3 linked regions of the Homo sapiens genome follow. The protein of the gene in region 2 purifies or fractionates together with the protein of the main gene of each other region. This does not show direct contact. Each region holds a gene or a part of one and is shown on either strand. Other genes may lie near its edges. The genes, in order: CAPG, SETMAR and TRUB1.

What was found.
Region 1: the proteins of SETMAR (region 2) and CAPG purify together in Homo sapiens (affinity purification with mass spectrometry; one large-scale study listed by BioGRID and IntAct). This does not show direct contact.
Region 3: the proteins of SETMAR (region 2) and TRUB1 purify together in Homo sapiens (affinity purification with mass spectrometry; one large-scale study listed by BioGRID and IntAct). This does not show direct contact.

The regions. Positions count from the first base shown.
Region 1 is NC_000002.12:85,397,183-85,400,398, forward strand, and holds part of CAPG (macrophage-capping protein), read right to left. Parts: intron 2,104-3,216; coding exon 1,954-2,103; intron 1,601-1,953; coding exon 1,508-1,600; intron 971-1,507; coding exon 838-970; intron 1-837. UniProt on the Homo sapiens protein: Calcium-sensitive protein which reversibly blocks the barbed ends of actin filaments but does not sever preformed actin filaments. May play an important role in macrophage function.
Region 2 is NC_000003.12:4,313,328-4,315,684, reverse strand, and holds part of SETMAR (histone-lysine N-methyltransferase SETMAR), read right to left. Parts: coding exon 1,924-2,357; coding exon of another isoform or gene 1,846-1,923; exon of another isoform or gene 1,290-1,845; intron 290-1,289; coding exon of another isoform or gene 197-289; exon of another isoform or gene 118-196; intron 1-117. UniProt on the Homo sapiens protein: Protein derived from the fusion of a methylase with the transposase of an Hsmar1 transposon that plays a role in DNA double-strand break repair, stalled replication fork restart and DNA integration.
Region 3 is NC_000010.11:114,944,571-114,948,229, reverse strand, and holds part of TRUB1 (pseudouridylate synthase TRUB1), read right to left. Parts: intron 1-3,659. UniProt on the Homo sapiens protein: Pseudouridine synthase that catalyzes pseudouridylation of mRNAs and tRNAs. Mediates pseudouridylation of mRNAs with the consensus sequence 5'-GUUCNANNC-3', harboring a stem-loop structure. Constitutes the major pseudouridine synthase acting on mRNAs.

The sequences.
Region 1 (3,216 bases), on a different chromosome or scaffold from region 2:
AGCCCCAAAGGTCTAGAGCTGGGCTAGGGCAGTGGTTCTCAAAGTGTGATCCCTGGAACCAGCAGCACAGACATAACCCATAACCTTGTTAGAGATGCATGTTCTGCCCCACTCCAGACCTAGTGAATCAGAATCTATGGGGGTGGAGCCCAGCCATCTAAACAGGCCGTGGGGTGATTCTGAGGCTTGCTGTAGTTTCAGAGCCATTGTCTAGAATTTAGGAGGTGGGAACAGCAAAGAGAAAATGGCGAGGCAGTGGCTCACATCTGTAATCCCAGCACTTTGGGAGGCCGAGGCCGGTGCATCACTTGAGGTCAGAAGTTCGAGACCAGCCTGGTAGTGAAACCCCATCTCTACTAAAAATACAAAAATTAGCCAGGTGTGGTGGCACGCACCTGTACTCCCAGCTACTCGGGAGGCTAAGGCAGGAGAATTGCTTGAACCCAGGAGGCAGAGGTTGCAGTGAGCCAAGATCGTGCCACTGCACTCCAGCCTGGGTAACAGAGCAAGATTCCTTCTCAAAAAGAAAGAAAGAAAGAAAGAAAGAAAATAGCAAGGCCTATGCCATGGCTCACGCCTGTAATCCCAGCACTTTGGGAGGCCAAGGTGAAGATCACTGGAGGCTGAGAGTTTGATACCATCCTGGGCAACATAGAAAGAACCCATCTCTATCTTTTAAAAAAAATTTTTAAAGAGAGAAAATGGTCAGCCAGAAGCATGCAGGCTTCCTGAGGCTGTCTTTTACAAGCAGCTAGACAGGCTGAGTCCTGCAAAGGGAAGCCTGCCCGGGTCAGAGCAGCTACAGGCATCTCAGGCTGTTACAGAGGAGCCACGTACCCTTCCAGATATAGATCTTGCCACAGAGCCCGTTGTCCAGCACAAAGCAGTCATCAGATATCAGCAGTTCAAGGGCAAATGGGCTGGAGTCAGCCACCTTGGTCAGGTTCATCTGTCCAGTGGCATCAGAGACCTGGGGAGGAGGGACAGTGCCTGATCTCACCCCCCACACACCAGCCCTCACCTCAGCCTGAGGAGGGGGAGGCTGGTCCTCCCTAGGTCCCTCCCACTGTGCCTCGCTGCCCACTGCCCAGGTCCCAGGAGCAGACAAGAGAGTGAAGACCTGAAAAGCAAATTCCAGGCAGCCCCACTCCCTCTCATCACCCCAATCCCTGCAGCACAGGGGCCCCGAACCCATTTGGAAATTAGGTGGATTCCAAATTACAAAGAAATGCACAGAATTCAAGAAAGAAAAGCTCAGCATTGGCTTCAAGCCTTCACCAAGCATAGGCTGGAAGTGAGGTGCACTCATCTCCTCAGGAGGGCCTGCCTTCCGCCCACTCCCCATCCTTGTCTCACTCCCAGCCCTGTATAACTCCCCACCTCCCACCTCGGTTCCAGCCCCACCTTCCCCCTGCCTTCTCCCCTCCACCCTGCTTGCATGCAGCTGTGCTGTGCAGGCTCCCACCCTCCCTGCTGCCGGGTCCCAGGGCAGGCTTGGGGGGCCCACCTTATACAGAGCTGCGGCCTGGGCATTTGCCTTGTCAGCTGTGAGGTCTTCCTCAGGGTTGCCCTCCTTCAGAGCAGGCTTGGGGCCCAGGACCTGCAGGGGCCAGGGCAGGCCAGGTTTATAGGGACCCCTGCCCTGGAACTTCCCAGCCCATCATGCCCAGGGCCACTGCTTCTGGTGGGGCAAACTGCGCCCTGCACTAGGGCACCCAGCAGAGGTGAGGTGAGTGAGGGCTGAGTCCAGCCCACCCCACCAGCCAGGCTGCTCAGCCTCGAGGACGAGCATCTACCCAGAGGGGCACCCTGTGAGCTGGCCACAGCCCTAGGCAGTACACCAGATGGCCCCTGCCACCCTCCACCGGCCACTCTCAGCCCTCAGCTCATCACCACCTCTCTTGGCCACTTTCAAGCAGAGGCTCCCAGCCACCCACTCCAATGTCCCCCAACCTGGATCATCTCAGCAGGCTCCTCCCCATCAGTGACAATCTCCACCTGGGCCTTGCCCTGTCGCTCACTGTCCCGGATGGCCAGGGCCAGGTCCCTCGCCTTGTTGCGTTCCAGGATGTTGGACTTTCCACCACACCAGGCGAAGATGTTCTGCAAGGAAGCAGGAAAGTCCGGGTCAGAGCCAGATGCCTGTGTCCTGCTCCCCAGCTCAGAGAAGGGCGCACAGCTCTCCCTCTCTCCTCTCTGAACTGTCCCTGAGGCAGGACAACCAGGAAGGCAGAGCACAGCACAGAGGGCTCTCTGAAAATGCCCACGACCACCCACTGCAACTGTTTCTCTGCCCACCTGCCATCTGTCTTCCTTTCTTTTTTTCGAGACAGGGTCTCACTCTGTCATCCAGGCTGGAGTGCAAAGACGTGATCATGGCTCACTGCAGCCTTGACGTCATGGGCTCAAGCAATCGTTGCACCTTAGCTTCTAAGCAGCTGAGACTATAAGCACTTGCCACCATGCCTGGCTAATTTCTTAATTTTTTGTAGAAATGGGGTCCCACTATGTTGCCCAGGCTGGTTACAAACCGCTGGGCTCAAGCCTCTTTCTTTTTCTTTTTTTTTTTTTTTTTTGAGATGGAGTTTCGCTCTTGTTGCCCAGGCTGGAGTGCAATGGTACAATCTCAGCTCACCGCAACCTCCACCTCCTGGGTTCAAGAGATCCTCCTGCATCAGCCTGCCGAGTAGCTGGGATTACAGGCATGTGCCACCAGGCCCGGCTAATTTTATATTTTTAGTAGAGATGGGGTTTCTCCATGTTGGTCAGGCTGGTCTCGAACTCCCGACCTCAGGTGATCTGCCCACCTCGGCCTCCCAAAGTGCTGGGATTACAGGCGTGAGCAGCCACGCCCAGCACCTCTTTATTTTTCTTCCCATCACATATCTCCTATGTTTAAACGTCTCTTAACCACCTATCTCCACCTACTAGAAAGTGAGCTTCATTAGGACATGAAGGTTTTGTTTGGCTTTGCTCACCACTGTGGGCCCACTGCTAAAACAGAGCCCGGCATGGATTTAGGCGCAAAATAAATATTGACTGACTGAGTGAAGGACTGGATGGGTGAATGGCTGAATGGCTCCTTGAGCGCAGCATCTCACACTTCTACCCACCGCCCTGCCAGGCAGAGCCCCTGTCACCTCTCCTTTTCTGGTAATGGCGAGGTCTGTTCACCTGTCCCCTTCCTTGTCTCAGCACGTGTAGTCCTCACCAAGA
Region 2 (2,357 bases):
TAAATGTTTTCTCTCAAAAGAAGTGTCAACATTCTCAAAAATATGGCAATGAAGCAAACAAATGCAGTTAACTTGCTGCTTAGAAAAGACTTGGAATAAAGACTCTTTGACTCTTACCTTAGGAATCTGGTTTCTAGGATTAAGTGCTATATAATAAACTAGTGCCTGAGGACAAAAAATTTCCAGGGGTCCATATTCAGTCAGTTGTCTCTGGCAGAGGCACTGAGTTGGAGGGGGCTGTTTGTGTCCTTGTCTCTGAATGGAAGATTGTCCTCTGGGAATATCTCTGCTGTTCAATATAGAAAGGCAAAAGGACATAGAAAAGGGTATCTGCAGAATCAAATGGTGAGCCAATCATTTTCCTTCTAACCACTTCCATATTGCGTCTGAAGCAGCTCAGTTATTAGGTGAGCTTGTGAGCAAGAAAAAGCACATTTTGGAGTGAGGGATACAAGCTGCCTTATTAAAAGCAGGACTGCTTCAGAGGCATTGAAGTAATAGAGGACAGTTGGCATGGAGAAATGATTAATTTGGAGGAAAATTTTTGATACTATGTATTTGTAATTTGGGGCATTTTATGTGTACTCTAGTACCATTTGTTCACAGGGAACCATTCCATGTAATGTTATATGAACATTATAAACCCTAAGATACTTAAAAACGACCTAGCTTTATTGAGATATAATTCACACGCTGTATATTTCACTCATTTAAAGTGTACAATGTACTTATATTACAGAGGAATAGTGTTATATATAACATGGATTCCTATAATGTTGAAAGTGCAGGGCCTCCTAGTGGTAGGGTTTAAATGTACTAGAGAAGAAATTAAATTACTTAATAATATCATAGGGGCTCTAGTAATTATTTTAGCTTTCAAAATGTCTGATAAACCTCCACAGTAACTGTATTTTTGCAACATCCCTGCTTTAAGGAAGGTAGTTAGAGATGTTTGCTGCTCTAGAAGTTTAAACGGGATCATAAAACTCCCGTCTCCTTCTGTGGTGTGGACAGGGTTATTTTTCTGTTATTTATACATGAAGTGAGGCTGTTTGAAGTTTTGAAGCATAACTTCACAAGATTTGGAGTACAGCCAAGTATATAATGAAAATGAAAAATTTACAATGTGTCTCTTTTTCTGACTTTTGGTTACAACATGTAAGTCATTTTCATAGTTATATTTTTCACTACTGGTAGTACTTATTAGGGTTTTAGCAGGTGATAGTTAATAATGCCTTTTTCCTTGATCCATGCTTAGAAACAATTAAGTAGGACGCAGGAGTCAGACAGAAATCAAAAAGTCAGCTTTATTACTGTTAAAATTGGTTGGCAAGCAGGGTTTAGGTATGCAGCCACAAGGGTTTCTTGGATCATTATTAGGTTCGATGTTAGTGCTAGAAAACTTACAATAACAGTGACTTAAGCAAGGGAGAGACTATTTCTCACCTGAAAGTACAAAGGTGTCAGATCACGACTGACAGGATGTTCTACAGTACCAGACACCTAGACTCCTTTTAACCTTGTTGATTTTTCTATGCAATGGCTTCCTTTCCCAGGGTCATCCTGGGGTCTAGGATGACTGCTCCAGTTCCAGTCATCATGTATACATTCCAGCCAGCAGGAAGAAAGAGGAGGTGAAGGGCAGGATATCTCCATTTAAGGACTTGTCATTTTTGCTTATATCCTATTAACTAGAACAGTCACTAAGACAAATCTAACTAGGAAAGTGAGTATTCTGGGTAGTCATGTACTTTTGTTAAATGGAGAATTCTATTACAGAAAGGGGAAAGGATACTGATGGACAACTTGCAGTCTCTGCCACATTCCTGAGTTAAACTTATGTAACTAGGCAGAGGTAAAGCTAGCCAACCACTGTCTTCCACTATAGGGAGGGGCAAGCTGCTTATCACTGAACAGACTCACCTCAAGGGTCAATCGCTTGCAGGAGGGGAACACAGAAGGGGCTGAGCCACACATGCTGGGTTCCTTCTCATTTCCACAACTGATGTTCGACTTTTCTACGGGGCAGTACAGAGAACTGTCAAAAGGCAGGAAAGCAGTACATGATTTGGCACCACAGTAACAAGGTTTCCTTAGTTTCCCATGATCTAGCCTTTCTTTGTCTTCACTGACTGTTAGATTAAGATATCTTCCTGAATAATCATAAGAGAGTTCTTCTTCTGGCACAATATCTTTGGCTGCAAAAAGTGCCAACTTAGGTACCATTGAGTCAATTCGGACAGGAATCATCAAAAGGTTTGGCTCACAAGAATGATTAAGGAATCTTCCAATATTTCCTATATAAGTAGGGTCAACAAATGTTTCCATTACCTGCCCATTATAAACATGTTCCCTGA
Region 3 (3,659 bases), on a different chromosome or scaffold from region 2:
CACATTTGAAAAGGTGTGGAGAATTTAGAGAGCAGATGAATAACGGGGTTTTCCATGCACTGTTGCACAATTACTACTCTCCTACTCTATCTCCCAAGTGTTCTGTGCTCACTCAAATGTCTTTTCCGTTAAAAAAACAAAAACAAAAATAACTATCTCCAAACTTATCCAATGTCCTAGTATCCCATTCTCAAATCAAAAAGATAGAATTTGTTTATGATGAGAGTCTCTTTAGGACAGGCATGGACTCTATACATGTATTTCCAGCTTTCTGTAGGATCATCTTACAAGACCTGTATCTTTCCAATCGTAGGAATCTATTTTAAGAATCTGAAACATCTGGCTGATACAGATGTGTGGGTAAAAACTAAAAACAAAACAAACAAAAAGTTCTATCTATAAAGACATCTCTCACAAAATCAGTTCTGACAAAACTCTGGTGATAACCTCAGTGACCTCAAATAGGGAAATGGTTAATAAATGGTATTTTAGCCATATGATGGAACATTTTATAGCCATTAAAAATAAAGTTTACAAAGAGCTTATCAACATGAACAATGTTTATGTTACAATGTTAAGTTTAAAAAAATGGATATATAAGTATACACAGTGAAGTAGATCTCAACTTTAAAAATCTGCATAGACAAAAAGCTACAAGGAAATATGGCAAAAATGTTAACTGACTATTGATGAAAGGTGGAAAATGGATAATTTTTTATTTGCAACTTTCTTGTATTTTCTAAATTTTCTCACTGTTTCTATAACCTCTAAAGTTAAAAAAATTTTTTTGAAATGGTATATAGAAATTTTATTTACATTTTAAGTGATTTATGATAAATAGGTGTATTCCTTTCCTATTGCTACTGTTAACAAATTACCAATCTGTCTTAAAACAATACAAACTTTTTATCACATAGTTGGGGAGGTGAGAAGCCTGAAACAGGTTTAACTAGGCTTAAAATCAAAGGGTTGGCTTGACCGTGTTCTTCTCTGGAGGTGCTAGGGGAGAATCCTTCACTAGAGCCTCCGTAGAGGACCTTTTTTTTTTTGCCTCCTCCAGCTTTTAGAGGCTGCCCCCATTCTTTGGCTTGTGATCCCCTTCACTCTTCAAAGCCAGCAACCACATTACTCCAACCTCTGCTTCCACTGCCACATCTCCTCTGACTCTCTCTTCTGCCTCCTCTTCCACTTTTAAAGAATATTGTGATTACATTGGGTCCACTTGGAAATTCCAGGATAATCTATCTTAAAGTCAGCTGATTAGCAACATCAATTCCATCTACAACCCTAATGTTCCTTGTGATGTAACCTAATATATTCACAGGTTATGGAAATTAGGACACAGACACCTTTAGAGGGCCATTATTTTGCCTACCACGTATTTTTGAGAAACTTGTGAACCCTCTAGCAATTATGCTATAGAATTATAAACCTGAATTTCAGGTTATAATCTTAAATTGTCAGCTAAATTCTTAATCTGCACCATTAATATTGCAAAAAAAAATGTTGAAAGTAAAAGTATATTTTTTTTGCATAGGTCCAGTTTTAGTTTTGTTTGTTTGTTTGTTTGTTTCAAAAAAGACCTTTTGGCCGGGCATGGTGGCTCACACCTGTAATCCCAGCACTTTGGGAGGCAGAGGTGGGCAGATCACTTGAGATCAGGAGTCCAACACCACCCTGGTCAACATGATGAAACCCTGACTCTACTAAAAATACAAAAATTAGCAGGGCATGGTGGCAGTCGCCTATAATCCCAGCTAGTCAGGAGGCTGAAGCAGGAGAATCAGTTGAATTTGGGAGGTGGAGGTTGCAGTGAGCTGAGATCACGCCACCGCACTCAAGCCTGGACAACAAGAGCAAGACTCATCTCAAAAAAATAAATAAATAAAAATAAAAAAGACCTGTATACAGCACTTCACAGGATAAAGTATATATCTATATACTATAGGTATTTTGTAAAATATTTTTGAAAACCTTTTGACTTAGTTTTGGTAGACGTTATCTTCTTTTAAGAGATGAAGACACGTTCAGTGAAGTTACGAGATTTTCTTAGGATGTATACAGTTAGTAACTAAAGCAGCCAGTAGCCAGTGTACAAACCGAAGTATGATTAGAGTTCAGTGTTTATTTTATCACACAATCAAAAATCGACTTCTCATAAGTTTCCAGAACTGCTAACTTGGACAACAAACATCCCTTACTCTGTGACTAAACACCTACAATTTTTTAAACTTTCTCTCTCCTCGGAAATCACATGCATTAAAAGAAAAATTAATACATCTGACATATGAACATATTATATCATCATAAAATTCCCTGTGTGATCAAATATAAATTGAGCCTCCAACCAGAAAACTGTTTCCAATACAATTTCTTCCACGCATACAAATCTCAGCCCCTTCACAATACTAAAATGGAAGCTTCAACAAGATCCCTTAGGCCAAGAGTGTCCAATCTTTTGGCTTCCCTGGGTCACAATGAAAGAAGAATTGTCTTGGGCCACACACATAATACACTAACGATAGCTGATGAGCTTAAAAAAAATAAAAATCACAAAAAAACTCATGATGTTTTAAGAAAGTTTACAGATTTGTGTAGGGCTGCATTCAAAGCTGCCCTAGGCCACGTGCAGCCCACAGGCCAAAGGTTGGACAAGCTAGCCTTAGGTTCAGGGTAAAAACTAAACTTTCATTCACTGCCTTGAATATCACTATTTTCTGCATGCCAATGAAGAACCGCCACCCGAAATTAATAGAATTGATCTATTCGTAAACAAGCAACTGATCTGATCCTCTCTTTCCTTGTATTTGTGGTGCCATGCCTGGAAAACAGTAAAGCAGAAGGGTTAGAAACACAGGCTTCAACTCAAAGGCCAACTCTAATCAACTGGTATAGGCTACTGAAGTGCTAAGCTGGTAAGAATCATGAAGCCCTAATTTCTGCCAAGAGCACAGGGCATGAGGAACAAAAGCAGGAGCACCAGGTATCTGCCATCCACAATAGGGCAGATGATTTGGAACTGAGCAGATCTGGGCTCAAATCCTGACTTTGTCACTCACTAATTCTATGACAGTGAACATGTTACTTTATCTCTCAGGGTCTTCCTTTCTTCTTCTGTAAAATGGGGATAGTAATAACCTCTCTTATAGGTTACAATGAGAATTAAACTATAGAACTTATGAATACCCAAAACTGAAGACCTTATATACAGTAAATGCTCAATAAATGCTTGTTATTATTAACTGGGGTTTTTGTTTTGTTGTGCTTGTTTTTTTGGGGTGCAGTGGTGCAATCACAGATCACTGCAGCCTCAACTTCCCAGGCTCCAGTGATCCTCCCACCTCAGCCTCCCAAGTAGCTGGGACTATAGGTATGTGTCACCACACCCAGCTAATTTTTTAATTTTTTATAGAGATGGGGTTTCGCCACATTGTCTAAGCTGGTCTTGGACTCTTGGGCTCAAGCAATCCACCTACCTCGGCCTCCCAAAGTACTGGGATTATAGGCATGAGTCACTGTGCCCAGCCTGATTTTTTTCTATTTTATGTTTGTTTATTTATTTATTTACTGAGACAAGAGTTTCACTCTTGTCACCCAGGCTGGAGTGCAGTGGCGCGATCTCAGATCACTGCAACCTCTGTCTCCTGGGTTCAAGTGAT